2 separate regions of the Homo sapiens genome follow, and region 2 is linked to region 1. A link means that fine-mapping ties the variant in region 1 to the expression of a gene that starts in the linked region. Tissue or cell type: substantia nigra. Region 1 holds a variant in brackets; the other region holds the start of a gene. All regions are shown on one strand. Distances are from middle to middle.

Region 1 (2,754 bases):
ATTTGCATTGGACTCTGAAGGATGGGCAGGCTCTCTCCAGGCAGGGAAAGCAGGAAGGAGCTCCAGACACAGGGGACTGCATGTGTGAACAGCAAGAAAGAGTGGTAGTATAGGGACAACAGGCTCTCGCTGTGGCTGGAGCAAAGACTCCGGCACTCCAGGTCATGGGAGCTGCACCTGCCGAGGTGGAAGCTGCATCCCCAGGCCCTGTCCATCTCCCAGGGCGCTTCCAGCCTGACCCTGGGGGTCAAGCTCTGTGCCTGGGTGCTTCCCTGGAGAAGGGGTTCAGATGTCAGGGCTCCTGCGTGACCCCAGGCCTCTCTCCTCCTCTCAGTCTTCCCTCAGTGCAGCTGAGAACCCAGCAGCCACCTCCCTAGCCCAGACCCATGCCAAAGCCCAAGAGATCTGAGGAGCTGAATGTAAGAAATGAGGAGAGACCAGCTCAAGGGGGTCATGGGTAGAGGGAGAGATGAGAAAAACAGACCCAAAACAGAGCTGGGGAACTGCCGACAAGCTTCCCAAAGCCCCAGAAACGCCCCAGGGCAGCAGGAGACAAATGCTTTCAGGCCTGAAAATCTCCACGGCCTCAGACTTCCCAGGTGCCTCTTCTGCCCTCAGTCTTCCTTCCTGCTCAGGTGAAAACATCAGCCTCAGTAAAACGCTTCAAGTTCCCAAGCAAGGATTCCCTGGGACAGTGAACTCCTCCAAACCTAAAGTGCAATCATCTACCACATTTTCTTTTAAACCTGTTGCCACCAGAATGGGAGCTTCTTGAGGACAGGGTCTGTGTCTTTTCTGCTTTTAGCCGCAAACCTAGCACAGGGCATGGCATCCATGGCATGGACTAGGCACTTAGTAAATGTGAATGAATGAATGAGTGGATTGATGGATGACAGGTAAATAATCAAAGACAGAATCCCCTATAACCAATTTCTGATTTATCTGACACTGAAAACAAGGCTCACCCGAAGTCCAATTGGAAAACATACCAGATCTATCTGAGGGGTTACTAAAGTGTTTTTATCCCAGAGGGGGATGGGCATGAGGGAGGCACAGGTCTGAGCCTGCCCGGAAACCCTGGTGATAGGGAAGGGGAAGAGTGGGGCAGAGCCAATGTGGCAATCCCCCTGTGACAC[G/A]TCTAACGCCACCTCCCAGCCTGCCACTCTGACTAACCAGCACGTCGGCAGCTGAGAAATGTGTAAACAAGATGGAAAACCGCAACAGTCCTCCCCTGCCCGTGGCCCCCAGAGCACCCTCCAGCTTCCTCGCATAATCCACGTGCAACCAGAAACTCTCGAAGGGTAGCAGATGAAAGGAACACTTGAGGAAGAGGGTGAGAGACATGATGGCCCCTGTCCAGGCGTGCGCACCTGTCCAGGGGTGGCAGTCGCGTCTCCTGTCACAAAATGTCCTGCACATCAGTCTGGCTGGGCGTCGCCCGCTGGTGCGGTTGAGCCAACCAATGCTTTCAGCATATCCTGCTGTCTCAGTTTCTTCCTCTAAATCTGTATGCATTCATTCATTCATTCATTCAGCATGTGTTCCCTGAGCATCTACTATGTGCTAGGTACTGGCAAGATACCATGGAAGATTCAGAGAATATGTAAAATCTAGGCCTTCAGTTTTGTGCACTCCATAGATGGAACAGGAGCAGGGGAGACTGCTTTCCCACACTCCAGACAAAGCCTGACACTCACTCACTCACTGATGTCCACAAGAAGGGGCTAAACATAGAGCCAAGGTCAGCCCCCTCACCTTCATCCCATCTCCACCCTGACATCACTCACGATCACATCTCCAGTCTCCAGAGAGGAGGGTCTTGCCAGGCTGCTGGGAGAACCTGTCCGGACACGTAGGAGTCACTGGTGGTCTTAAAGAGAATAATAGCTACAGCGGCAGTATCACATCTCTATCCAAATGCAACAAGGGCCCCATGTTGTGCTTTGAGAAGCACTTTCACATCCAAAATCTCCCTTCAGTCTAATACAACTCTCTGAGACATTGTAATCCTCATTCTACAGATGAAGAAATTGAGGCTCAGCCGGGTGTGGTGGCTCATGCCTGTAATCCCAGCACTTTGGGAGGCCTAGGTGGGCGGATCACCTGAGGTCAGAAGTTCAAGACCAGCCTGGCCAACATGGTGAAACCCCATCTCTACTAAAGATATAAACATTAGCCGAGCGCAGTAGCTCACGCCTGTAATCCCAGCGACTCGGGAAGCTGAGGCATGAGAATCGCTTGAACCCAGGAGGCAGAGGTTGCAGTAAGCCGAGATCACACCACTGCACTCCAGCCTGGGCAATAGAGTGAGACTCGGTCTCAAAAAAAAAGAAAGAAAGAAAGAAATTGAGGCTCAAAGAGGTTCATGACTTGAAAAGGGTCATTCAGCCAAGGGCAAAGGGAAAACCAGTAGCTATAATTAACTTAGACTTTCAAGAAGACTAAACTAAAGTTTCATACCCAATGCTGCTCAGGGAAAAAAAAACCCAAATTACCAGGAGACCATTAACGATAGAAAATTGATTTAAAGAGAGAATATTATAAGTGGATCAGGCCTAGGACTAATCCTATCTGTGGGAGGAGACAAGAGAAATTTCAGGCTGAGAGTGAGCTCTTCAGAATCACAGACCCTAAGGAAAAACCTTAGAGGTCTTCTCGGCGAGTGGGTTCCCCAAGCGTACTTTGACCTCAGAGCCTTTAGCTCCACTGAAATCAAATGCAGAATCCTCGTATGGGACACAGAGAGAAAAACAG
Region 2 (2,610 bases), 940 kb after region 1:
ACCTACAAAAACACACATGTAGGATACACCCCTCACCTTTACTAAGGAGCTCCTGAAGGGCTGCCCTGGCCAGGGAGCCTCGAATCTTCAGTCTCTCAGAGACCACAGCTGGGGTTATAAGTTTATAGTTGGGAACTTCCTTACAGAGTTTATCATAGGTAGCTTTGTCAAACAAGACTAAGTTATTGAGCTTGTCCCGAACTTTGCCTTTGGACCACTTCTGCTCACCAAAACAAAACAGAAACAAGTTAGTATTTCTGGCAGAAGCACCCTTTCCCTCTCGAGTAATCTGCGTCAGAGAAATCTGTTCCACCGTTATCAAGGATAAATTACACATTACTAAAACAAAAACAAAAAAAAAACACCGACACGTTTTTGGCCTTCAAACAGGGGCCGAGCCCCACTAGATCAGTTAAAAATAACACAGCAGGCACAGCGGCAGACACTTCGCACAACAGACCCATTTTCATGATCCTAATGGGAAAAAGAACGAGTGGTGACGGGAAGATAAACTCTCACATTTTGACTCTAGAAATCTACACCTGAAAAACCACTTACTATACAAGTTACCTATTACTAGAGGATTACGAGAGAGTTACCCCTAGTCTCTTTCAGAGAGGTCTTATTTCTACCTTCTTTTTGGCCTTGCCCCCGGATTTGTTCACTGGGTCTTTGTCTTTCTTGGCCGACTTTCCAGCGTCCTTCTTCTTCTTGTCGTCCTTAGGCGGCTGTAGGAGGGCAGCGGGAATGCAACCAGGTCCTCAAATAGCGCCAAAGTCCCCTAATACTGCGCCCTCAGCCCCCGCAAACTCCACCACCAGAGCACATGGGCCAAGCAATAACCGCGCCCGCCCTGCAACCGAGGCCGGCAGGCCAAGGAGCGCTCCCGCCGAAGGCTCTCCCCACTGAGTCCTCAAACCCAAGAACGCCGGCGACTTCACACCCCTGAAGCTTACCATTGCGAAGCTCGGAGAATAGCAGCAGACACCGCAGCCTCGTCAAGATGTCGGACAAAAAGGAAGCGCTGCTCAGAAACGGGCCCAAAAACCACCGTCCGCTGTGAGTACTTCCGGGGCAAAAGGCGGAGCCAGGCAGAAGAAGTCCCACGGCGAAGCGCTCGCCCTCTAGCCTGAGGCGGAAGACAGGAAGTGGATTCTAGTTCCCAAGCCGCACCGCCTAAATACTGCCGGAGTCTGCGCTAGTTGTGACGCATACTATAGCGCTGTTTTCCTGCACTGATAAACGAAAAGCAATCCACCAGGTCTCGGCAGCTAACTTTCCGGCACTACTTATGCCCGAGCGTGTCGCTCCCAGTGCGCAAGTGCAGCAGGTGGCTGCACGGGGGGCGCGGGAGGAGGAGGAGGAGGAGGAGGAGGCTGGGGTGGGGCCGGCGGCAAGTGCTGTGATGCGGTTCCGGGGAGGGGCCGTCGGGTAGAGGCTGAATACCAGTTTCCGAGCGGCAAGGCAGCGATGGCGATTTTTAGTGTGTATGTGGTGAACAAAGCTGGCGGCTTGATTTACCAGTTGGACAGCTACGCGCCACGGGCTGAGGCTGAGAAAACTTTCAGTTATCCGCTGGATCTGCTGCTCAAGCTACACGATGAGCGTGTGTTGGTTGCTTTCGGCCAGCGGGACGGCATCCGAGGTGGGCTAGGCTCGGGCCCGTGGCGGGTGCGGGGGTGGGAGGGCCCCAGTGCTGTAGAAGTGGGCTGGTTGTAGGTGCGGGGTTGGGGGAAAAGGGGTTGTGTCGGGTCCCTTGTCCCCTCGGCGGAATCCCCGGGCTGCACCTTCGCTGACCGTTAGCTTCACCTCTGCAGTGGGTCATGCAGTGCTGGCCATCAATGGCATGGACGTGAATGGCAGGTACACGGCCGACGGGAAAGAGGTGCTGGAGTATCTGGGTAACCCTGCTAATTACCCGGTGTCCATTCGATTTGGCCGGCCCCGCCTCACTTCTAATGAGAAGCTTATGCTGGCCTCCATGTTCCACTCGTAAGTCCCCCGTCTCCTGAACGGCAGCGCTTGTAATTTGTCTACCTTTTCTTAAATCGTCGTTCTGGTGTTATGAAAAACGCAACCGATCCAGATCTAGATTTTAGGTAATAACGGCAGTGGTGTCATCTTTTTTTGCTGGGTGGGGAGGGGCCGCGGAGTTACCCAGGCTGGAGCGCAGTGGCGGGATCTCGGCTCACTGCAGCCTCTGCCTCCCAGGTTCAAGCGATTCTCCTGCCTCAGCCTCCCGAGTAGCTGGGATTACAGGCGCGTGCCACCACGACCAGCTAATTTTTGTATTTTTAGTAGAGAGGGGTTTTGCCATGTTGGCCAGGCTGGTCTCAAACTCCTGACCTCAGGTGATCCACCTGCCTCGGCTTCCCAAAGTGCTGGGATTACAGGAGTGAGCCACCGCGCCCGGCCGAGGTGTCATCTTACTTAAAGTCAACTTCTCTTCTCTGAGCCTTAGTTTCTTCATATTTAAAGAAAGCCAGTTTAACTAAATGACCTTTAAACTTTTTCTGCTCTCAATTGTGATATCAGATGTGCCGGCCTTTGCTTAAACACAAGCTTAGTAAGCGTGGCACATATTCCTAGAGTATTCATTTTACCCAAAGT

What was found. PIP is the estimated chance that this variant, and not a neighbour inherited with it, causes the effect.
Region 2: TRAPPC4 starts here. The variant in region 1 is fine-mapped to the expression of TRAPPC4 in substantia nigra (GTEx, PIP 0.99).

The regions. Positions count from the first base shown.
Region 1 is chr11:118,080,240-118,082,993 of GRCh38, forward strand. All of the region lies in intron 1 of SMIM35 (small integral membrane protein 35), which reads right to left. The region is part of intron 1 of TMPRSS4 (transmembrane serine protease 4); the gene reads left to right. Among named protein-coding and RNA genes, the nearest start is that of TMPRSS4, 4.5 kb to the left of the region's middle. The variant G/A (reference allele first, on the strand shown) is at 1,137.
Region 2 is chr11:119,017,326-119,019,935 of GRCh38, forward strand. It overlaps TRAPPC4 (trafficking protein particle complex subunit 4), which reads left to right and starts at 1,441. Exons shown (of 5, transcript NM_016146.6): 1 at 1,441-1,645; 2 at 1,818-1,992. The coding sequence starts at 1,471. RPS25 (ribosomal protein S25) reads right to left here and starts at 1,018. Exons shown (of 5, transcript NM_001028.3): 1 at 957-1,018; 2 at 633-728; 3 at 37-220. The coding sequence starts at 959. RefSeq lists enhancers at 740-809, 830-1,059, 1,314-2,012 and a silencer at 1,300-1,419.